Linked DNA regions of Homo sapiens. The protein of the gene in region 1 interacts with the protein of each later gene in a pairwise test. Each region holds a gene or a part of one and is shown on either strand. Other genes may lie near its edges. The genes, in order: TRIM49 and MINDY3.

Region 1 (13,205 bases):
ATGGGAATTTGCTTTAATTTTCTGGCTGTTTGCGACAGACCTTTCTTTGTTAATAACAGATGCATTTAATGATATACATTGTTTTGTAAGCATTGTCTTAAATACATTTCAAAAGTTTTTTTGTTTTGTATTTTGAATATTATTTAATAAAACATACTTTCTTCGTTTTTCTTTAGTGCATGTATTTTCAGGGAAACTATAACGGAGAGGGGAGGGAATGCATTTTTCTAATGATATCTGAAACAATTAGAAACCATTGAAATTAATTTTAATAAAACATTATAACCCAATATATCCAAAATGTTTTCAACATAATAAACATTACAAATATTAGTGAGATATTTTATATATATTTTTTTTGAGACAGGGTCTGGCTTTGTCACCCAGGCTGGAGTGCAGTTGCTGGATCCTGTCTAGCTGCAGTGTCAACCCCCCTGGCTATAGCAATCTTCCCACCTCAGCTTCCCCAGTACCAGGGACTACAGGTTCATCCCACCATGCTCCGCTAATTTTAATTTTTTTGGAGAGACGAGTTTTCGCAATGTTGCCTAGGCTTTTCTCAAACTCCTTTCCTGTGTCCACCTCTCAATGTGATGCGATGACACGCTTGAACAACAATGTTCATACATTTTAGGAAGAAAGTCCTAAGCCTACTTAAGTTCTTTTAGAAAGGATGGATTGGAATTTACTTTCTCTAAACTCAATAGTTTCTAGAACTATAAATTAGAGTCAAGTATTAAAGGCCCCAGGAAGACAATTTTAGAAGAAAAGTTTTCAAAGTGAGCCAGGCTAGATGCTTTATAATTGAGCATTCACTGGATATGTCTTGGCATCCTAATGGCCAACGCTGAGGTTTTTTATTTTTTTTAATAATGTGGAAGACTGAACTTTGTTACATGTACATTGTGTAGAATTTCCAAAGTTAGAAACTTTTCTTAAAACACTTCACTACATTCCTTTTATTTACGTATTTTTTAAAAAATTTACACTATGCATGGATACATCCTTAATAGAAGATTAGGATTCTGCAGTTTCAAAGGCAAAACCTAATCCTTTCGATTGGCTCTATTTAATTGTATAATTGCTTTATCGATTAAAATTTTAAAAAAACTTCTACAAATACATTCCAATGTTAGATAACTAAATCAGTTGTCTGATGTCATTATACAATGTCACTCCCAGACGGGAGTGAAGTGGCAGGATCTCGGCTCACTGCAACCTCCACCCCAGGGGTTCAAGCAAATCTTCTGCTGGGATTACAGGTGCCTGCCACCATGCCCAGCTAATTTTTGTATTTTTAGTAGAGAGGGCTGGTCTCGAACTCCTGACCTCAGATAATCCACCCGCCTTGGCCTCCCAAAGTGCTGGGATTACAGGCATGAGCTGCCACAGCGGCCTGATGTTACCTTTTTAAGTCCACATAAAGTGACTTTATAATTATCTTTTAATGACTCCTTATTAAAACCTAAAATATATGAAGAACTATTTTGTTTTCTGCTTTTATCTACAATACTAGATTTTCCATGATTTTTAAAGAGTAGAAGACTTTATTTATTTATTTATTTATTTATTTATTTATTTTGAAATGTAGTCTCACTCTGTTGCCCAGGCTGAATCGCAGTGGCACTGTCTAAGTTCACTGCATCCTCTGCCTCCCTGGTTCGGGTGATTCTCCTGCCACAGCCTCCTGAGTAGCTGGGACTACAGGTCCGTGCAACTATGCCAGCCTAATTTTTGTATTTTTATTAGATATAGGGTTTTGCCATGTTGATCAGACTTGTCTTGAACTCCTGACCTCAAGGGATCCACCCACCTCGGCTTCCCAGAGTGTTGGGACTGAGCCACCACGCCCAGGCTGGATTGGTTTTTAAGAACTTGATTTATACATGTTTAGTTTTAAAGAATGGCTTTTTGTGTTTTTAAACTTTTTAAAGTTAAAAACATTTCACAAGAAACTGGTGAACTTAAATGACATTGAAGATAATTTACTATCACTTAACAGAGGGGTCACCTTTGGAGAATGGGTTATGTACGGGTATAAAATTGAAAAATAGATTTGTATCCTGAGATTAATATTCTGAAGCTCTATCTCTGGTGACTTAGAGAAATTCTCAAATCACCAAACACAATAAATAAACGAATATAAAATATAGTGGCTCTTTCACTTCTCTAAAGCATTTTCTAAACTCCCAGAATTATGAAAAACATGGAAGATTCAAATATTTTGCTGAAATGGGTCAGAATGGGAGGTATCCACTTAGCCTATAGGTGCTTTCAACTCTGACTCAGCAAATTATAGGTATTAACTTTCTCTGTGGCCTACTCCTCACACCCTCCTAACCCATTCTTGCTCAATATTCTTCTTAAATCTGCATCTAGGTTTGCTATCATATTACCATCCAAATAATAATTGATTTGGATGTATTTACATAATGCAAAGTTCTTTAAGTAACTAATAACATTTACTTAGCATTAATTGGTCCCTTTCTATGTATGAAGCAGTGTTCTACTTGCTGATACCTACAATATTTTTCATAGACTTTAAAATACATCGGCATACACAGTGTGAAATCATTTTTGTGTGTGCTTGTTATTTAGGTCACAATATAAAATACATACTGCTAGAATTCTAATAAAAACATACTGCACAGGAATGGTGAGGTAGCATTTAAATCGGGAAAGTTCAGCTTGACAGGGTCCTATTACCAGTGCATCCTGTTAGACTAACAACATTCAACATCATAAGTAACACATCAGTAACAAGCTCTTAACTGAGACAAGGTTAGAAATGTGTATTTTTATTTTATAAATAATCTCTGAAAAAGACAGCCTTCTTAAGCACAAATATCATTTATTATGGTATGTTCAGTCCTTTTCAATTTTTTACTTTCAAACAATATTCTCAAATATATTTAGAAAAAGGTTTTAAGGTATAGTATTTCATTAATGCTCATCGTTTGGAAAAAAAACCCAACTGGAATACAAGCACATGAATTTGTGTTTATTTTTTTAACTGTGGATTATCATGGTATTTAATCTACTTATTACAAACAATTTTTGAAAATAGTAATTGATATAACTTGAGACTTTTCATCAAAATTTGAAGACATCTAACAATATGCATAATGAATTTGAGTTGGAAAAAATGTGTAATACAAGTAAAAACAAAAATGCATTTTCCATTCCTACCTGGAGAAAAAAAAGATGAAATAACATACAGGTTGAGCACCACTAATCAAAATATCTAAAAATCCAAAATACTCCAAAATCTCAAATGTTTTGAGCTGTGAAATGTCACCAAAAGTGAAATATCCCACACGTGACCTCATATGAGAAGTTACAGTCAAAACATATTCTCAGTGAACAAAAGACTCTCCCAGCCCCTTCAGTTGCAATATATCTTTCTGTGTCCACCTAGATGCCCCCGAGCAAGAGCACTCACAAAGGGTAATAAAATGGCATGTGTACACAAACTTTGCTTCATGAATAAAGTTATTTAAAATATTGTCTAAAATTATCTTTAGCCTATCTGTATAAGGTGTATATGAAACATAAATTTTGTGTTTACACTTGGGTTGATACACAAGATATCTTATTATGTCTATGCAAATATTCTGTAATCCACAAATATCCAAAACCTGAAATTCTTCTGGCCCTAACATTGTGAATAACAAACAGTCAACTTGTATTACATGGTTTTATAATGGATTTATTTGAAAATGTGACTGAAATCTGTGGATGAAATTTTACAAACATCAGTTTAAGCCAAATAGTATTATTTTGTATAGCAGAAGGGGATACACTGGGTTTATTTCTCCACAGCATCCAAGTAGAATGTGACAGGGGTAAGGAGGAAAGATTTCTGTATGTAGTACTCATGATCCTTTGGGCTTAGGGGAGGTAAAAACACAAGATATGCTAACCTTACATTCTGCTCTGTTCCTTGGAAATTTTATAAACAACACTTACTGTTGTTTATAAACAAGAATGGATTCCAGTGAAGGGAAATGGCTAAGTCCATGAGCACCATTAGAACTGGCAGGGTTCAGGAAAGAATGTGAAAACTCTACTCCACAGTACTCGTTTTTCTATACTGTGCTAGGAAAGATGAATGGAAAACAAATTTGGCAATGTAATGTCTGCGAACAGGATACACAGCCAGATATGGGAAGAATAAAATATAAGAATCTTGTGTCTACTGAATCTAGAGAAGAAAATGTTCTGTTAACTCTTTGCTATGAAAATGCTTCGAGGCTGGGAACCGTGGCTCACGCCTGTAATCCCAGTGCCTTGGAAGGTCGAAGCAGGAGGATTGAGTCCAGGAGTTTGAGACCAGCCAGAACAGCATAAGAAGACCATATCTCCACAAACAATTTAAAAACTAACCTGAAGTGCGGGTGTCTGCCTGTAGTCAGAGCTACTCAGGAGGCCGAGGTTGAGGATCACTTGAGCCTAGGAGGTTGAAGCTGCAGTAGCTATGATCCAGCAACTGCTCTATAGTCTGGATGACAGAGTGAGACCCTGTCTCTAAGAAAAGAAAAAAGAATAGAAAAGGAAAAACATGATTGAAATCTAAAACCTAGAGTGCTGTTTGTAACTGTTGCCTCCATTATTTTCTCAAGGAAGGAAACCTATTTGATTCTGATTTTTACAGCCTAATGATAATGTAGCTATATTCAAGAACTCAATGTTTCATTCATCAGAGGAAGAAACTTCAGAATGTAGGCTGAACCTCACCTGAACACACAAGCACAGAAGGAATCATATGTGTTTCTGTGGCTCTAAGTGAGAAAATACGTTGAGAGATTTGAGGATTTATGGAGTTGACGACATGTAATTGATCCCTGAATCCATCCCATACAGGAAACAGGACCATAAAAAGATTGCTTACGACCGGGCGCGGTGGCTCACGTCTGTAATCCCAGCACTTTGGGAGGCTGAGGCGGGCGGATCACGAGGTCAGGAGATTGAGACCATCCTGGCTAACACAGTGTAATCCCGTCTCTACTAAAAGTACAAAAAAATTAGCCGGGCATGGTGGCGGGCGCCTGTAGTCCCAGCTACTCGGGAGGCTGAGGCAGGAGAATGGAGTGAACCCGGCAGGTGGAACTTGCAGTGAGCCAAGATCACGCCGCCACTGCACTCCAGCCTGGGCGACAGAGTGAGACTCGGACTCAACAACAACAACGAAAAGCTTACCTTTTATGTGCTCATATGTAAAGTTGGGACAATGCTACACATATTGCATGTTTTCTGTGGAGATTAGGAACAATGTGTGCATGGAGACAGCACAGTAACTGGTACATCATAGCCCATGTATCACATTGTCCCCTTCCTTTTTCTAACATATTTCTCTCCACTCAAATAGATAAGAGGTTTCAAGAGAAAATGACTGGGGTTTGTAGAAAAATAGACAATAAACGGGTAAAACAATTGAGAAGAAATGCCAAAAAAAAAAAAAGCGTTAAAGAAAAGATAGCCCTGGACATTCAGGATCCACAAAGCAAAATATAAATTTGTGGAAAATTAATAAATTTTGTTAGCATGGGAAAAAATATGCAGAATTCTCTCCATGTGCGCAAATAAAACAAACAAAATGTCAAAGTAGTTATAATACCTAGGTTTTAAATGGTATTTATCATAGAATGGCATTTTTATAAAAATTTAAAAATTTCCAGAATTAAATAAAGTCAGATTTCTACATATGTTAAGGAACGAGAAATAGATCACCAACTTTCATACAAAGATTTTCCAATGAGTTTTAGAACCCAGATGAACAAAAGAGTCTATTACCAGATTCTCAAAAATAGATGTGTAATTCAACAGAAAACTTTGTGGTAGAGGTAGGTTTCAGATGCTAGAATGGAAACAGTCTCATGTACAAAAAAGTATCTTTTTTATTAAAAGGAGAAGCACTGGGAAATAAGGAAATATTCCAAATTGGCTGGAGTGTCCTTTATCCACATCACGGATTGTTCTTGCCTATACCCACCTCTACTCTCTCTTCTGGATTGGGTAGGACTTTTGGAACCTACAAAATGCCAACTCTAAAGAGAATTACTTTCTTATATTTGTTTCATGGTCTGAGACTCAAGTAGGAAAATAGGTTGTTTCCTTGATAATGCCACAGTAGACAGAGGTAGGTCTGTAATTGAAAGCTCCTAATTTCCAGTGCTCTAGGCTTCAACTGCCTAAAGCTGAGTGTTTGAATAAGTGAATGATGTGGTGCAAAAAGTGGTTGAAATAAAATCAGAAGCTACCTACCTTCCTTTCTCTCCTTGCCCTAATTCCTTCCTGATACACAGCATCATCAGACCTTGTAATGGAGTACCAGGGCCCCGCCACGGAGCTCCAGAATTTAAGCAGAGAATGTCCACAGGATCAAGTCCATGACCCAGGGTTTCACAAGTTTCCCACTCTGGAGTCCAGGACTGAGCCAAGAGGGCCCCCACACACAACCAGCGCAGATCTTACTTCTGTGTGGACACTTTGGTTAATTACTTAGATTTATTGAGGTACAGAATGTGCATACAGGGTGGTCAGTCAGTTGGTGGTCTTGGATAGTAAACTGACAATAGAACAAGAAAATCTATTGTTCAATTCCTTGTATTTAATTAAATATAAACTCTGGATGATTTTATGATGTGTCAACTTGAGTACATGTATGTACAAAGAGGGAAATGAGGGCAGTAGCCATTTTGTGGCATAGACATACCTTATTATTCTTCAATGAAACACTTACTTAGGACCTGCTGGAAAGGCATTTTGCAGATGCGAGCAAAGGTCCTAATCCTGTAACTAGGAAGTGTACCCAAGTAAGCCTGACTTCATCAGTGAAAGTCCTTTAAAGAAACACATAGGCATTCCTTGAACAACATTTTAAATGGCAAATGGGACTCTAATCTTCCAGTTGCCCCCTATTGACTTTAAACCAAAGCTTTGATTCATGACCACTGGGATCCAGCCAGCGGGGGATTTCTTTTCCTGATGGACTGTACCCAGGATCTCACATTTGCTTAAGCAGCTCCCACAATTGGGTAAGTCAAGTCTTTGCACTTAATTCATATGTGAATCTCCCTAACTATACATATATCTTATGGGTTCTGCTTTTGTCTTTGAACCTGGACAGACCTGGGTCTGATAGATTTGTCTTCACTGTTTTGACAGTCTTGACCATAAGTCTTCTGGACCATTGGCAAAGAATTCCTCTATCAGAAGATATTTGAGTAGTCCCTTCTGAAATCTCTTTTTTAAAAAAAATAATTTTCATATAACAACAAAAAGACTTGGCATAGAAAGAAAAATATAGTCCATCTCTATCATTTGGATTCTGTATTTGTGAATTTGCCTATATGCTAAAAGTTATGTGTAATCCCCAAAATAATTCCCGTGGTGCACTCCTAGTCATTGTAGGACATCATGCACTATATGGAGAAAAACGTTAAAATCATAACTCATCTTTCACCCATGAGACTGGTGAAGTTTTGTAAATTCAATGAGAGACCCCAGGTTAGTGGGTTTATTTGGTTAATCAGTGATTTCTCTTAGAGTGGTAGAAAACAGAAAACAAAAAGGAAAGTTTTATCTTCCATTGGACTTCTCTGGAAATATCCTATAAATGTACTAAAGCAGCATTTAAGCTGGATGAGGTGGTTTATACCTGTACTCTTAGCACTTTGGAAGGCCGAGACCAGAGGACCACTTGAAGCCAGGAGTTGGAGAACAGCATGGGCTACAGAGTCATACACTGACTTTACCAAAAATTTCAACAAAAAAAATTAGCCAGGTGATATAGTGTGAGCCTAAAGTCGTAGCTACTTGGAAGGCTGAAGCAGGAGGATTACTTGGAATTCAAGGCTGCAGGGAGCTATGATTATGCTACTGCACTCCAGAAGGAGACCCTTTCTCTAGAATAAATAAATGTGCACTTAGAGGAATGCCTGTATCATGGAAGAAACTCAATAAACAGTATAAAATGCATCTTAGTTAATTTCTAGCCTATGTATGCTCTGACAGGATTTATGTTACATATGATTCATTCAGGCACTGGTGTTCAGAATGAAAGTGTGATGATAATTTAATCAGAGCTGCAAAGGTGTGTTCTAAATACTGCATAAACCTAATCATCTTTGTCTCCACCTTTCTGAATGCTCTAAATACCCATAAAGAGGTGGGTGTGGTCTTCACAGGTTCTTATAAAAGGACACGGAAGAGACAAGCTCAGTTTTCTCTGAAGGAGAAGGACTGCACTTAGAACTGCATTTTGGCGACCTCTGAAATTCAGTACTGCAGTGAATGAGCTTCTGATCTTGAGGTGAACTTAACAAAATTATTTTTGGAAAAATCGTTGTGGGAACCATTAAAAGAACTCCAGGGTGAGTGAAACATATTGATAAAATTATATCATCTTTCCTTTACACAATAATAAATTAGAGTGTTAAAAATATCTCATTATCTGAAATCTACACAATGATACCATTTGTAACTCATGTTCTTACTATAGATTTTATGAATTATAAGGATACTAATTGTTGTTATTTTGTGCTTTCTATGATTGTTTAATATAGTTCTGAAAAACTTAAAATATCTAGTGTTTGCTGCAACAGATATGTATTCATAATGAATATATGGAGTTGATACATATATGTACACATAGGTGTGTGTGTATATGTATGTAATGAGTGTATTAATATTGTCAAATTGAATTGAGAAGACATTAATGAATGATGAAGTTATTTGCTTTCATAACATTCAGGTTTTAGACATGACTTTAAATTAGTAAGGTAATGATGAGCGATGCAAAATAGTGAAACTAAAACAATGAGAAAGCTCCCCAAAATATCCTACTTTAGAAATCAAAACACAATTTTTCGAACAAGTAAATTTATAAGACCTAATATGGTATGTGATTGTGATTGTCATCTCACTTGAGTCTCAATCTTATTAAACTGTGAAAAATTTCTTAAAATGTCTTAGATGAGTTCTGGAAAATATTTGCAATTCTAAGATTTTTCACTGCTTTCACTTAAATTCAGAAGTGATATAAAACTAGCAGCTTTATGCTGCTTTATGCTAAAGGATTTAAAATTGCCAAAACAAAGATTATAGTTTTTATATTAGTCAGGGTTCTCCAGACAGAACCATAGGATGTATACATATATGTGTGCAGATACATTCATGGGCCATTTGAGTCAGCCACAAACCACATATGGGGGTCCCATAAGATTATAATACCAATATGTTTACTGTACCTTTTCTGTATTCAATTATGTTTAGATACACAAATAGTTATCATTGTGTTACAGTTGCCTACAGTATGCAGTACAGAACATACTGTACAGGTTTGTAGCCTATTGTAGGAACAATAGGCTATAGTGTATACCATAGGTGTAGTAGGCTATACCATCTAGATTTGTGTGGTATATTCTATCATATTAAAACAATGAAACCGCCGGGCTGGGCACTGTGGCGCGTGCCTAGAATCCCAGCACTTTGCAAAGCCAAGGCAGGCAGATCACTTGAGGCCAGAAGTTCAAGTGCAGCCTGGCCAAGATGGCAAAACCCCATCTCTACTAAAAAAATACAAAAATTAGCCAGGCCTAGTGTCACGTTCCTGTAATCCCAGGTACTTGGGAACCTGATGCAGGAGAATCGCTCTGAACCTGGAGGCGGAGGTTACAGTGAGCCGAGATCACGCCACTGCATTTCAGCCTGCGTGACAGAAGGATACTCTGTCTCAAAAAAAAAAAACAAAAAAAAACTAAAAACACCTGACACATTTCTCAGAACATACATCTGTCCACAAGCTATACATGATTCTACATGGGACAGAATTCATCAGGAAAATTAATTTGCTTGATTATGGAGTCTAGAGAGTTCCAATATAGGCTGTCTCTAAGCTGGTGTCCTGAGAATACCGGTATCCTGGCTAAGCTCAAGTCTGAAAGGTTCAGAACAAGTTTCAGGAGAGAGACGGAGGAAGTTGCCTTTTTTCTGCCTTTTTCTTTATATCTGAGGTGTCAGCTGATTGGATGGTGCCCACACACATTGAGAGATGAGGCTCCCACTCAGCTCACCAGCTCACATGTCTCTCTCCTCTAGAAACACCTTCACAGACTCACCCACAAACAATGCTTCACTAGTTCCCTAGGTGTTGGTTAATCCAGTCAGACTGATACCTAAAATTCACCATCACACTATGGAAATATAATTACACCTCTCTGAGTTTAACAAAAACCTCCTATATGTTAGTTCAGAGCTTGCACAGCCCTAGGGGAAGTTAATTTAATCCGCAAGAAAATAAAAAGACCCAATATCTTTAATAATTTTTCTTTTCCCTACTAGTGAAACTTGATTAGTTTAATTGCAGTCTTTTTCTTTGTTTATTTGGTTGGTTGGCTTTTTTTTAAATTTTGTTTTGATTTGGGTCTTTGTTTTTAATTTAATTTAATTTTAAGTCCTGGGATAACTGCAGGACTTGCAGGCTTGTTATGTAGGTAAACTTGTGCCATGGTGGTTTGCTGCCCGGCTTTTGTGACTCTCTATAAAAATATGTCATAGAACCATCTTCTCATATTTCTTTGGCCATCTTCTCATATTTCTTTGGCCCGGGTAGTTTTTTCCCTCCCACTCTTTCACAGTCATTCATCAGTTATTGAAAGAAGAATAGGGACAACTATGATTTATTCTGACCACTTAGAATCAAAACCCAATTTCCAGATCTATGTTCAGAAAATGGGTAGTTGAATAGGTTTGTATTATGCTACAGACAGGAACTAGGAGTAGAAGGGACTGTGAGTCCTCTGGTTAGTAATATCTGTTAGAAAGCCAGGAGACTCCCTCTAAGTGTAAATTTTTAAGTTTGTAACAGAAGAAATAGTTTGTTGTACTTTAATGAACACTGTCAAGAGAAGAAAATATAACTATCACATATCTCCACATGTTTAGAAGGTTTTCATCAACCCAGGCCCCAAAATGACATGTTTCTCTTTGTTCCTCAGAAACATGAATTCTGGAATCTTACAGGTCTTTCAGGGGGAACTCATCTGCCCCCTGTGCATGAACTACTTCATAGACCCGGTCACCATAGACTGTGGGCACAGCTTTTGCAGGCCTTGTTTCTACCTCAACTGGCAAGACATCCCATTTCTTGTCCAGTGCTCTGAATGCACAAAGTCAACCGAGCAGATAAACCTCAAAACCAACATTCATTTGAAGAAGATGGCTTCTCTTGCCAGAAAAGTCAGTCTCTGGCTATTCCTGAGCTCTGAGGAGCAAATGTGTGGCACTCACAGGGAGACAAAGAAGATATTCTGTGAAGTGGACAGGAGCCTGCTCTGTTTGCTGTGCTCCAGCTCTCAGGAGCACCGGTATCACAGACACCGTCCCATTGAGTGGGCTGCTGAGGAACACCGGGTAAGTGATGGCTCTGAAGATCGATTTCTGTAAAGGAAGCATAAAATTCCTGTGGGTCTATTTTCTTGGAGATTGGATAAAGCCAACTCTGAGTCCCTTTAAGCAGCTCTGTTTGGGCTTTCTTAGCTTCCAACCTCTGGGCTTTGACAAACATGAAGGGAAACAAAGGAAATGCCATTTACTAGGGGCTTATTTGTCTCTCATTCTGGGCCCCCTCCCTATGTCATGGTCTGCACTGGTGCTTCAATTTATGGCTCTTTTGCAGGAGAAGCTTTTACAGAAAATGCAGTCTTTGTGGGAAAAAGCTTGTGAAAATCACAGAAACCTGAATGTGGAAACCACCAGAACCAGATGCTGGAAGGTTAGTCCTGTACTACTCTACCTTCTCCAGGAACTTATGGTGGGCAAATGGGTGACTCTTAAAATAGGAACTTGATATCAAACTGTAATGTTTCTGGGATACAGTAAAAAAAAAAAGGCGAGAGAAAACACTGAGAAAAAGTGGCCTCATTTTTATATAGAATAGTATGCCTGTTAGGTAGGATTTCTAAGAAAACTACTGATGTCACCCAAAGCATGCTGGTTTGTTTCATACAAACCTATAGTTATACACCAACAGATCCAAGAAACTGGGCCATCTCAAAGCATTCTATATTTGCTGGTTGGATAAATGCTAGGCAAAAGGGTTATTTGGCAGTCATGGAATGCTCAACTGAAACTTCTGAGTGTCGGTCAGCATTAATCTGAATGCTAGTGTGCAAGTAGTATTTGGAATTGCATGGAAAATTTGAGGCAGAAAAAGTGACAGGGCAAATCTAGGGAAACCATGAAATTAAGAATCTCAACTAATTAATATTGAATAATACATAACATACGATGAGAAAAGCGGTGAGAAATACGGATTTGTGTCTTGAGGGAGACATGTAAACATGCCAGAAATATGGGAACTAGTATCTAAACATAAGGAGAACTCTGAGGACTTCAGAAAAACATTAAAATAATTTTCTCTTCGTGGATGTATATTTTGAGGGTATGATAGCTAAGATTAGTTTGTTGAAAAGTATTTCATGAGAACCTAGTCTATGTTGAATATTAAATTAGAAAATATACTAGTAAAGAAGAAAGGAAGCACCTTTGTCCTCACAAATCATACAATCCAAATAAGAGAGTCAAATTGTCAATACACAAATATATGCAATACATGATGTATTTGAGTGTGGTAGGTTTTTGTTGGAGAATAATCAAGCAGGGAAGTAGAAAAGGACAATAGAGGCCAGAAACTGGAGATTAGTGTTTGAGTTTTAAATAGGGTGGTCAGAAAAAAGACTCACTGAAAAATTCAAATTGAAACAAAGTTTTGAAGAGGAGGGGGAACACAAATGTGTGTGTGGATATATATGTGGACCATGAGTGTGTATATGTATGTATGTGTGTGTGGTTGTGTGTATATATGTATGTATGTATGTATGTATGTATGTGTGTGTGTTTGTATACATATATATGTAATTCTAGTTGGAGAGAACAGCATATGCAGTAATTTTGAGTTTGTGTATATTTGGAGGCCGGAAGAACCACAAAGAAGTCTATGTTTCAGACTGGGATGACTTAGAAAAAGAATAGAAGGAAATGAATTCAGGGAGACAAAGATGGCCAAATCATAAATGCAGCCTTATTAGGATAGGTTTTGCTGAGCGAAATGCACTTAGCTGGACATGCTAGTCTAAGGTCATTTTCATATAATGAGTTTAAGCAACTTGGTGCATATCTCAGAAATAGAAAGAATTGTTTCC
Region 2 (12,462 bases), on another chromosome or scaffold:
TACTTTTCTAATATATCATATTTAATGCTATATATTTCCTTTATTTTTGCTATGTCATATTTTCATTAACACTCAGTAGAAAGTATGTTCTAATTCCCATTGCAATTTCTCTTTGACCCTTTGGTAATTCATTAGTGTGTCACTTAATTTCCAATCTTTTGAGATTTTCTAGACTTACTTTATTGCCAGCATATAATCTAGTTTGGTAAGCAGCCCAAGTGCATGTGGAAAGGAAATGTTCCCATGGCTATTTAAATGTAGTGTTCTACAGCAATGATATCAAGCTAAGGTCCAGTCATGCTTGCCACGTGAGTAGAGACAGCTTCAGAAAATTCTAGCCCCTGGCTGCTGACTGAAGCAGACAAGCCATGCATCCCCACCTTGCCCCGTTTAGATTCCTGAGCAAAGAATTTGTACATTTAATCAAATGGTTGTTTTATGCCATGAAGTTTTGGGATGATTTGTTGTGTAACAATGGTAAGAGGACCATTCTATTTCATAGGCTTGATGTTTATGAGACAATCTACGATTTTGTGTAATCCTTTTGGAATTTGGGATTATTAAACCAGAGTTTTGAGAAACTAATTCTAGCATTATATATTTTATACAGATTTGGAAGTAGCCTAGACCAAAATATTGACATTTGAAAGCTGTAAGTTTAATAAGTAGTATCATACTCCTGAACAGAATGTCACCAAAAGTTATACACAAAATCTCATGCCTTTCCCTATGCTTAATTATATTGTAATTGTGTGTGTGTACGAAAGAAAACAAAACCCAAACAGAAATTCACACAGGAACTATACTATTGAAGGTAATGTTCAGTTCTGAAATGTGTAAGAGGATACTACATAATTATCTGCTTTACACGTGGCTTTACACGTGGAGGAAAAAAAGTATTAATGGCTATGTGATTTTAAATTGCTGGGCCACAAACCTATCAGAATACAGCAGATCTCTCTCTCAAGTAAACGGGCTTCTGCATCTTTGCTCACTGGTCTAGAAAGCTGCCATGTGGGTTCTCATGCTTCTGGCTGGCTGAGTTAGCAGAGCTCTTAGGTTAGCATAAGGCCTGGTCTCTTATTCGAGGTCCTGTATGACTTAGCCATTTGTAGTACTCTGTGCTCTCAGGGTTATTGGGTAGAAACATTTAGAAGTACGTATTTGTTTATTTTGAGCCACCAATGTAAAAAATGCAAGGGTACAGTTAAAGAAAAAGGTGTTTATTTAGGCCATCAACTAGGATCATAATAAATAACGTAATATACTAATGTAATAACAGATCTTCTCATGCATTTATCGTGTTTATAAATATAGAAGAAAGCTGGCTTACAGGGCTGTTGGGACAAATTTGGAAAAGTGTATTTGGCAATTACACAGTAAAAGTTAACAGTGTTGACTATCAGATTCTCTTTTCTGTCAGTTTTTAGAATACATCCCCTATACATCTGTGAATAAATGGTAATGGTCTCTTAGAGTTTCTACTTTTTGTGAACATGCCAGAGTTAAGTAAATTGTCAAAGGATCCAGGTTGACAATGTGTTATTTGTCAATATTTCTAATGAAAAACAGATCTTAGAAAAATGAACTCTTCTGCATTTCATTGTAGAGGCTGATATATTACAAGCCGGAATCATTCAAACAATAAAAAAAGTGCCTCAATGAAATAAAACCCAAAAGTAGTTTATCAATAGTAACTGTGATACTTAATATACAAATGCTGTAGTATTGCGTTTGTAATTTGGTAAGTAAATGACCAAGTATCTGAATGCAAAAGTGATGAACTTTGATGAAAGCTTAATTTTGCTAGTAAATTTCACACGAAGGGGTAAAATAGGATAATCTTTAACATAAAGCTTTAGGACAAATAATTTAAACATATCATAAACACTGAAAATGTGTTTTTAATTGTTATTTACAGTTAATCAGTGATACCAGTGTTTAGCTTAATCCAGCCAATTGCCAGTCTTGACTCCTTCTTTCAACATCTGTTATTAAGATCTTCCTTATAAATACTTAGACAAATTAATTTAGTGAAGGAGAGCGATCTGTGGTCCAGAGTAACTCAATGTATGGCCATTTGGTTTGCAGACAGCGTTTAATAGGAGTGTCATCTGTCTGTAGCATGGGATCTTCAAAACCCATCACAACTGCAGTCCCTTCTACGTACATGACCTGTTGAACAAAATAAAGCCACCAAGGTCAAGCAACAGTCTTAGCAAATTCTTATGTGGAATGAAAACAATTTTTAGAGGCTAGCAAATAAGGTATTACATAGTTTCAGATGAAACTTGACATGTAATTTTATTTTGCTAGAAATGAGAAGGAATATCTGCTTACTGATTAATGTGAAAGTAAATTTGTAAACGATATTTAATTGCTAGCTGGCCAGGTGATTTTTAAAAAATTCAAGATCATGTGAATCCTAAAACACATAGATTGTTTCTAAGAAAAAAAACATTCTTCAACGGATCTATACCATCGGAAAGAAATGCTTAATTATCATATTTACATATAATTTATACAGGTCCTACTGCTTTAATACTGAGGTTCTCAGATGCTCATGCTGCCTAATGAAACGGAGAGCTATAAAAGGAATATAGCTATTATGTTCTGAGGAACATGTGTCTCCTTCTAATTTAAGTATTGAATTTCTAGAGCTGAAACCAATTTGAATGTTTGTCAACAAAACTTGCTATTATGGTATTAAATATTCCTGAAATGCAATTCATGAGTGCATTCTGTACAGCATGAAAAATCATGGAGAAAAAAATTAAAAAGGATGTCAGGACAGAAAGAAAAGTAAAAGAGACGTTGAAAGATCAAACTAACCAGATACTGTATATGCAGTGGCAGTGATCACAGAAATATATACTGGCAGGTGAATAGCAAGAAAAATTTTATTCTGATTAATTTACAATGAAACATACTTAAAAAGTATTTTGGACATATCAACAAAAACCCTAACTCATTACCAAGGGCTCACTGTGGACATTAAGGCACTCCTTGGTGGTTAATTTCTTTTTTGTACCAAGAGAAATTCTGATGCTGTATAATTTAAAAGAAACAGATACAGACGACTGTCTTCTTCCAAAGTGTATAAAATTATTTTTACACATTCACTGGCTGATACACATGAGTGTAATTATGTTCTTCCAAAATAAAAGCCATAAGCTATTTAAGGAGCCAAAAGAAACAACTTTATTATCCTTAAATGGTAGTTGCCTCTAAAACACATTAAATATAGGAATAGAATATATTACTAGATCAGATAATCTTGTGTCATGAATCTACTCATTCCTAAGAAAGTGCTAAAGATACATTGTAACGTGAAATACATTTTTTGGCATCTTTATTTTAGTTAATATATTAGTTTCTAGTGTTGATGAAATAAATTGACATTGAAACTACAACTCGGGCTTTTCAGTCCCCAAAGCAAAACTGCCTTCTCTGAAAAGTTATACACAAAGAATATAATTCAAGTTATTAAGTTAAATACAATCGGCCCTATTTTTCACAAAGAACTTCATGTACTCATGTCATTAGAGCAGAAGTGCTTGGGCAAGGTGCCATGACCCACCTCCATGGCCTCAATCAGGCTCGGATGCCTGGCGGCTCAGACTCCATCTCACTTTGCCAGCATTCTCCTTTTGTCTGTTTCCTTTCTAACAGGACCTTGCTATGCAGCTTATAATTTTAGCTCCTGATTAACTTCAAAACATATTTCTGTGACTTAATGACATCCATACTTTGCTTTATAGCTGCTGTATATTACTGTCATTTTAACAGTTCATCCTATTTGTTTTCTAATCTTTTTGTTGGTGTGTCAGAAGCTTGTCACAAACATGATTTGAAAACTTATACTACATACAGGTAGAGTGGCCAAGCAGACCAAGGACAGGATTGGGAATCAGGAACTCAGTTCCAATCCCTGTTCTGCCAATGACTTGCTGTGTGACCCTGGGTGAGTCACTTGATCTCCCCGTCTCAGATGCCTCATCTGTAAAATATGGATAATATTTGACCTATCTTGCAGGGATTGTGTAGGTGAATAATTAGTGATTATAAAGTACCTCCTATTACAAAGCTGTGCAAACATCAAACTCTAGATGAAGCACTCATTCGCACATTAGAAAACAACATCCAAGTTTGCATATATATATACATGCAAAGAATATACATTGTCAAGAAAATTTGGATGCTGTATATATATATCTTTGGACCTGACAAAAACATCTAATTTATATTTTGTTATAAAGATAGCAGTAAATTTTAGTCTTTTAGATTTGGTCTAATTAAAATTATGTACTTAATTTACACTGTTTTCTGTAACCTTCCACAATTTAGATACATGAAGTCAGCATGGGCAGATCAAATTAAAAAGGAATGTTAGACCTTATTCCTTTAATATTAGCTATAACTAATACATATATATTATATATATATATATATACTATAACTAGTATGTACTGTAACTCATACTTGAATAAATGCAAAGATAATAGACACACAAAAAGGGGAAATCAATGCAGCCGAACTCTAGCTTTACGCCAGGTTGAGTACACCTGGCAGTGAATCACCTATGTGCTTTGTCAACGGTTAGCAAAGGAAAGCTGCAAAGCATCATGGGTAGGAGCATGGTCTCTGAGCTGGACTAAGTTTCACTCCCAGCTCTGTCATTTCCTGGCTGCTTGACCTGTAAAATGGAGATATACAGACAACACTTCCTTCATAAGGTGCTGTGAAACTTAAGCAAAGTACTTAATACAATTTCGGGTAAATGCTCAATATATGCTGACTATGAAGGTTATTTATTTAAAAATATTTTTTCCAGTAAAAAGTCTCACTGTTACCTCTTTCTTCCTTTAAATGGATAAGTAACAACTTTCACTGGACTAACTACGATGTTGATTTAGAAACACGCTACACTGCCAAGGGTAACGATCTGTATGGGGGTGTATTTAGTCATGGTGAAACTACTGCTCTGAAGTCCAATGTCAGTTTCCAATGCAGACTAACATATACTGGTCAAATCCAAAGATGGCTGATTCTAAAATGTGTCCTCATAGTAAAGAGACTCCTGGAATAATCTTAGGTAGCAATTGTACGGGAATCGAACATTGTTACATACTCACATAATTATTTCATCAACCCAGTTGAACACCGACGACTACGTGAATTATCATACCTTTTCATTATAATTTGACTGCTTCAATCCATTGTAGTGGTAGACAGTAAAAGATTCTGGACCACTGGAGCCCTATTATAAATAAAGGACTATTAACACTTTAAATTATATTTATATCAGGCAATTTCTAATCAACTGAAAGTAAAATGCATGTTTCTCAAATCCTTATCCTTTGACTGGGGACTCATTTGACAAAAGAAGGAACTTAGGTTTATGGAGTTGTAACTACCAGAAAGCCCTGAAGTTGAAAGTGTTGCCTCTGAAGAAGATGCTGGAAAGTAGGGAAGGTTGATTTCCATTATAAGCTCTTCAGAACTAACTTATTTTTTTTTTAATTATGTGCATGTATCACTATAACTTTTTTCAAAAGACAAGCTTCTAAAACATTTGCTAAAGTATATCTCCTTTTCTATGTAAATAATTTGTTCCTCTCAATGAATTGAGAAAAGCAGTAGCATCACTTTTACTCAGACTAAATACACTTCCAGTATGTACCAATACTTCCAATTTGGCCCACGATGTTTAATTAGTGGTTTCTTTTCCAAAAAATATCCAATATTTGAATATTGTCAACCATTAATTAGTGAAAAGAGCACTGTGAGAAATGAAAACATACTTATAATGCTTAAGGCGATTTCAGTAATATTCAATAAAGAAAGGATATCCTATATATCACTAACAGAGTAAGCTTGTAGAAAAATGGGTCATGTTATTCCCACTATCTTAACCTTGCTTTTCAATTAGCTAAAGATCACGTTCAACCCTCTTAACCTGGCGTTCAAGGCCATTACAGGCCTGGCTCCCAGTGATTTCCCTCAGGGCCCCTGGCTGAGTCTGCCTGGATAGATCCCCCTTGTCTTCCTGGCCATATCCGATGGATACAAACAGGCACATGGCCCTCCTTAGAATTTTTTCCAACTGGAATTAAGGGAAGACAGCTGCTGGCAACTGGAGCTTCAGCTCCTACAGAAAGATAGGCTGTGAGAATGTAGCCACTTTAGAGACAGGGGATGGGAGGTGGAGACCTCCCAGTGCTGTTCAAGGACTCCAGGAGCACTTTCCCGGTGCTTGCTTCTTCAATTCACCTGAGCTACTCCTTCCCCTTCATGTATTTTCCCCCTCACTTATGCCAATTTAGGCTGAGGTTCTGTGACCTGCAATCATGAGTCTTAAAATCATACAGGGCTTAATCTACCTTTTTAGTCTTATCTCCAACTACTCACCTTTCTGAATTCTGTTTTGGACAAGCATGACTCATTTCATCATGAAAAGATCTTTTGTTGGCCTTTTGCACATTCATGATTTTTTTTTACTCTTCTCTAAAATGCCCTCCTCTCCTTCCTTTTTCCAGACCTGGTTTAAATCTTACTTTTTCTGTAAAGTTTTTCCTGGACACACTAGTTAGTTTTTTACTACACTGGAACTTAACCTTTATCATAACAATTGTCTAAATAATTTGAGAAGGAATCATATAGTACTACTTTGTATCATCTCTTCTATTATTTTGAAAGACTGTTTAATTTTTCATGTCTTACATTCCCAACTAAAGCCTAAAATTGTTTTGTATCCCACTCAAAATGCCTTACAGAAAATAGAAAAATCAATTTGATCGTTTCCTTAATTACAGGAGTCATTGCAATTAGTTACATAATTTGACTCTTGGCTATCAGAGTTAAATTATTTGAACTTAAATAACCATTTTCCTGTAACTGAATATAATTTATATTCCCTATTTCCAGTAATTAACTGGCATAAAATACAGAAATACCAACAAAAAGTAGTGTAGCCCACTGGTAAAGTGCATAGACTCTGTGGTTAGACAGACTATATTGGATTTCTGAATCAGCTACTAAAATACCTAGTGTATGACCTTAAACAATTGTCTTAAGTTCTCTAATCTTCAATTTCCTCATTGTCAAAAAATTCCTGAATCAGCTACTAAGATACCTAGTGTATGACCTTCAACAATCGTCTTAAGTTCTCTAATCCTCAATTTCCTCATTGTCAAAATGGGGAAGATAATAGTATGGTGTTTGGAAGGCACACAGTGCCTGATGGAGAGTATGTGCTTGGGAAAGGGGAGCTGCTTCTGCTATTCTTATTTAAACGAATGGTCTTGAAAAGCTTATAAATATTACCACTTTTTTCTTCCTGCATCAGCCTCTACATCATAGCAAATAAGTGTTCTTCCACAGGACCTACTTGAAGCATTGTAAAGATTACCGAAGTTAAATATTTTCCTGGCTGTCCTTGTCACTCCAGTTTTGCAACTTCATTTATTTGTGGCTGATTAAATAAATGTTTACTGGGCCTCGTGAGGTGGCTCATACCTGTAATCCCAGCACTTTGGAAGGCCAGGACGGGTGGAACACCTGAGGTTAGGAGTTTGAGACCAGCCTGACCAACAAGGTGAAACCCCATCTCTACTAAGGATACAAAAATTAGCCAGGCCACCATATGTAGTCCCAGCTACACAGGAGGCTGAGGCAGGAGAATTGCTTGGACCAGGGAGGCGGAGGTTACAGTGAGCTGAGATCGTGCCACTGCACTCCAGCCTGGGTAAAGGAGCGAAACTCCATCTTAAATAAATAAATAGTTTACGGAATGATCACTATATTCATCTGTTAGGGACAAGGCAGTATGTGACTAATTGCCAAAAGGAGTGTTGAGTCACTATGCATTTTGTGGCTACAGGGGAAAGGGGACATCAGTGGTATGTAGGGCATGATCGGAAAAGATCTATGACACCGAGGGCGTCTGAGCTGCTATAGGATGGGAACAGATGGGAATAGGTGGGACTGTGACAGGTCTTCCTCTAAAGCAGCTGTTCTCTAACTTGGGCCTCCAGATCACTTGCAGGGCTTGTTAGACCACATTGCTGCACCCACCCTTAAAGTCTCTGCTTCAGGGAGAAACCTGAGAATTAGCATTTCTAACAAGCTCTTGGAGATCATACTGAGAACTCACTGCTCTAAAGGTAACCAAGAGCAGGATCACATGCTCGTGGGAGGCAAACAGCATGAACTATACAGACAATGAGACAAACCAGGCCCAGGTGGAGAGTGTCTTCAGAATAGCAGGCAACAAGTAAACAGTGAGAGAGGAACACAGAGGCAACAAACAGTACAACCAAATGGAAATGTCTGTTACAGGCGAAAGAGAAGGGACTAGAACCCTCTTTTTACCTAAAAAATTACTACAAGTAACTGTCTCACTTTACATTTCTCACTTTTCAAAATCTTCCCCAAATTAAATTAAAAACAGGAATATTCTTTTTATTATAACTAAGAATCAACATTTCTATCAAAAGTTCCGATAGCAGCCTTGAAATATAATTAAAATTAATACTGTCTCAAAGTTTAAGATGGTATAATGTATTATTAATCCAGATATCCAGTCAGAATGTGAACAAAGAGGATATCACACTGAAGGGTCTAATGTCGGACAATAAAATCTAATTTTTCATGAAGGCTTTAAGACCAAAGTTTTAAGAAGTCCAGTAGTCTACATTGTCTACATTGTGATATCCTCAGTTACTTTTTGAATCTTACCTCTTTCTTAACAATTTTATCTTGAGTTTAACAATCTTTTTTAACAATTACATTCTGAATTTTAGTAATTATATTTTGAAATTTTCCCTCTTGCTTTTAAATTTTTTCTATTTGTCAATATGTCTCTCTAATAATAGCGGTAAAATAGAAATTGGAATGTCTATTGCAACAATGAACTTCAGTGCAAACTATACTGATATCTGATAAAATGACCATGATATCTGTTATCTAGTTAAGTAATTTGATTTAGTGGTAAAATGCTTCACTTAGAGAACAAAGACAGAAAGATGGGTATTGGATATAGAACTGGCTTGCCAATGATGCAGATACAACTCAAAAACATTCAGGTTGGCCCAGATGCCTCTGCTATTCCAGGTAACTGAGCTCCTATCAAAGCCCAGTGGAAGACATGTCCCAATGGGAAACGGCCCAGACCCACTTAGGTTTTAATTCTCCAGGAGCTTAGCTTCACTAGCTAGGGGCTTCTACTACCCACAGCCACCTTGACCTCTTCTCACAGTATTTAACAGCTTCCTGAGAGAAGAAAAGTGGGGGTGGGAGTGGAGAAAGAGAATCTTTCTCTTTTTACTCCTCAAACTTCCGAACTGTTCTCTCCGTATCATTATGTGTATAGACTGGTGTCTGCGTCATCTTCTGCTGCCCTCCCCATCAAGGCACTGCGTTACCGTATTCGAACACACATTCCCTCTGTCTGGGAAGGTTTCCATGTAACGGTGTTTTCTCAGTCTCATATCTGCGCATTAGGACATTGTACAGAAAGAGAAAATGCTGCAAACAATCACAGGTAATCATCCCAACAGAATAACAATGAATATATTTCCTCAACTATGTTACCTGATCAGGAAAAAATTCTTGAAGAAATGGGCCCAATAATATGATTCCTAATCCTTCTGGATCTAATTTATTCTTCATGAGATTTATACTACGGGGAGAAAGAAGAAAAACAGTGGATACCAGAGGAAAAAAAAAAGCTGCTTTTCTTTCATGATTAAATTACTGGTACTACAACACATTCGGCTGCCAAAAACACTAAGAGCTGTTCTTTTTAGAACCTTAATGACAAATACACAGGAATGACATCTAATTTGCCAAACTTGGTTATTTTTAAACTAGAGTAATCTGTTACTATTTAAAATTTAAATTGTGATGACTTTGGAATATTGTTCCTTATTAGGTAAAGTAATTTAAAAACCAAGGTTTATAAACTCAAGCTTGTAACTTCCCAAAGGCAAATTCTCTTTGCTTCATAGGTATGCCTGAATTTAACAAATGAGGCATTTAACTAACAAAATGTTTTTCTTTTTCTCCTTGGGCTTAAAATACAGGGTCAAAAGGCAGTGGTACATCAGATAATAGAAAACATCTCTTAAAAAGCTTACTTTTAAAAACTAAATGAGATAGCAGCTTAAAATTCATAGACAATGTAATTTGAAGGTTAAAGAGCTACATTAATTCTCAAAGAGCTAATGCGTCATGAATGACAGTGACTGATATATACTGTATTGGTCCAGCAGCAGCCTAAAGTGCATACCAGCCCTTACAATGCAGGTGTACCAAGGCTGGTGACAGGTGGTGTTATGTGTGACTAGAAAGAAGGAAGAAGAAGGCAGAAGAAGGCAGACTGCAGTTTAATGGGTTTAAAAATGAAAATAGTCTTCAGAAAAGTTTTATTTTCCTTGCTATCTCAAACTATAAAGGCCAAGTTAAATCTACCTTACTACACAACATGCAAAGTGTTGTGTTTGGGGATTTCAGGTGGTTCTAGTCAACCACCTTCCTCAGGGGCAACTTCTCTCCTTTCAGTTTGCCTCTTCGGTCTGGGTCAGTTACCAGGTGTGCCTTTCACAAAAGGAGTTAAAGCTATTCTTGTGAGGGTAAGCTATGTTTTAAGGTTTATGAAAGCTGCATCTGCGCTGACATAGCCATCTCTCCCGGAAACACCTGGGTCAGGCTGCCTCACAGACCTCCTACCTGACGTCTAGTATTGGCCCTGTGAGATACTTTTGTGGGCCTGTGGCTATCATTCTTGTATAGTATACTGTACAAAGGATATGGCATTTTAATGAGTCTGAGTAAGGCCGGGAAGTTATGATGAAACAAATGAAGGCAGGGTCATTTGTGTTTAATTCATTTAATCCTTAGGATGGCCCAGTTATTTCATGGGCCATTCTGTATTACAGTTGTAAATAGGCCAAAGTAGAGTGAATACTTCAGTCCAATCTTTCAACTACTTCAAGAAAAACAACCTGATTGAATCAATTGTACTAACTTCATGATTCAAGGTACGTTTTCCATCTGATAAAACAAGGAAAATTAGGTAGATGATATATAGCTATGGAAGAATTTGGAAAAAAAAAAACTTTCTTCTTTCTCTTCCTTGTCTTAGGCTGGTCAGTAACAAAAATTACTTGAGTTAATTCTCTTTTGTAAATTAGAGCAGTGTAAACAACATGGTCTCTACTTGGAAATAAAGTTAGAAGAAGTATAGTAATTACTATCATACCATTTGTTGGACTAGTTCAACACTCTGAATTTCTCTTTAAATTGAAAACAATTATTCATTTATTAATATTTCTAACTATTGAGAATGGATGAAATCACAGCTCTGAGTAGTAAGCTTGAGACACATTAATTCAGATGTGGCTAGTTTATGTGTATTGCATACTTTCAAAGAAAGTATGACTGAACTCATCTAAAAACGGAACAAGACCAAATTCTAAAAACGGTGTCTACCAATGTTTCCTGTTGCTTTTGCTGAACTCTTTCATTATGTTTGATAAGCTCAAGTTTTTGCATTCTTAGAAAAACTTGCAGAAGGAAAAACTATGCTGAAAAAAGGAGTAAAGGTCCTATCTTAACTTTTATTCCCATATTTGATCAATACATGTATCCACTTAAGAAGAGTTATTTTTTCATGGATAATAACTAAAGATCTTAATCTACAGAGGAAGTTGTAGATGTAACAATGCATAAAACATAACAGTGAGAATGAAGACAATGACAGGATCCTAAGAAAATACTGAAAAACGATATGCCATAATATATTGCAGCCATCCCTAAAAGTTTCAGGTCAGTTAATTTAATCATTTAGAAATGTTAGATATCTTTGATCATCTTTATTTAAGAGGGAAAGTCAGAGGCCTGCTGGTTATTTAAGCAGGGCAACTAGCACCATCTACACAGAACCGTCATTACTTTACTGAAGATACTAATGTCACATAAAATTTTAAGACGTGGGGAAGTGTTTGCAGAGAAACTTTTTAAAGTTTATAGAAAGACACTTTTAGCATTTTTTAAAAAGCAGGACAGTAATTGCTGGGTGGGAAAGGAAACTCAATTTAAGTATGTCAAGTCTGCTATAATATTGGATTAGTTCGATTTCTTAATCTTTGCCTTACATAGATTGCTATGCTTCATATATGCAGATATAGATTTTTAAAAAGGCAAAAAATGTACAATATGTCTTAAACTTAATCGAATCTTTTTGAGTTGGCTAAATAACACTTCCTATTTAGCTTACTATTCAGGATCTGAAACAAGGTCCAATGCTTTCATCACATCTTCCAGAAGTGAATCGGGTATGAATCCATTATCTAGGGGGGAAAAAATCAGAAACAACTTGAAATAAGAATTTACTTCAAGAAATGCTATTAATGCTGATCAGGTTCCAGGAAAAAAAAATCGCATAAAAAATACAAAGAG

The links.
Region 2: the proteins of TRIM49 (region 1) and MINDY3 interact in binary tests that used the Homo sapiens proteins (3 or more experiments, as listed by UniProt).

The regions. Positions count from the first base shown.
Region 1 is NC_000011.10:89,802,269-89,815,473, reverse strand, and holds the start of TRIM49 (tripartite motif-containing protein 49), read left to right. Parts: upstream 1-6,898; 5' UTR 6,899-7,037; intron 7,038-8,189; 5' UTR 8,190-8,375; intron 8,376-11,000; 5' UTR 11,001-11,004; coding exon 11,005-11,415; intron 11,416-11,680; coding exon 11,681-11,776; intron 11,777-13,205.
Region 2 is NC_000010.11:15,776,967-15,789,428, forward strand, and holds the end of MINDY3 (ubiquitin carboxyl-terminal hydrolase MINDY-3), read right to left. Parts: intron 12,354-12,462; coding exon 12,281-12,353; intron 9,683-12,280; coding exon 9,595-9,682; intron 9,494-9,594; coding exon of another isoform or gene 9,488-9,493; exon of another isoform or gene 5,268-9,487; intron 5,261-5,267; coding exon 5,189-5,260; intron 4,001-5,188; coding exon of another isoform or gene 3,911-4,000; exon of another isoform or gene 2,883-3,910; intron 2,176-2,882; coding exon 2,026-2,175; 3' UTR 1,208-2,025; downstream 1-1,207. UniProt on the Homo sapiens protein: Hydrolase that can remove 'Lys-48'-linked conjugated ubiquitin from proteins.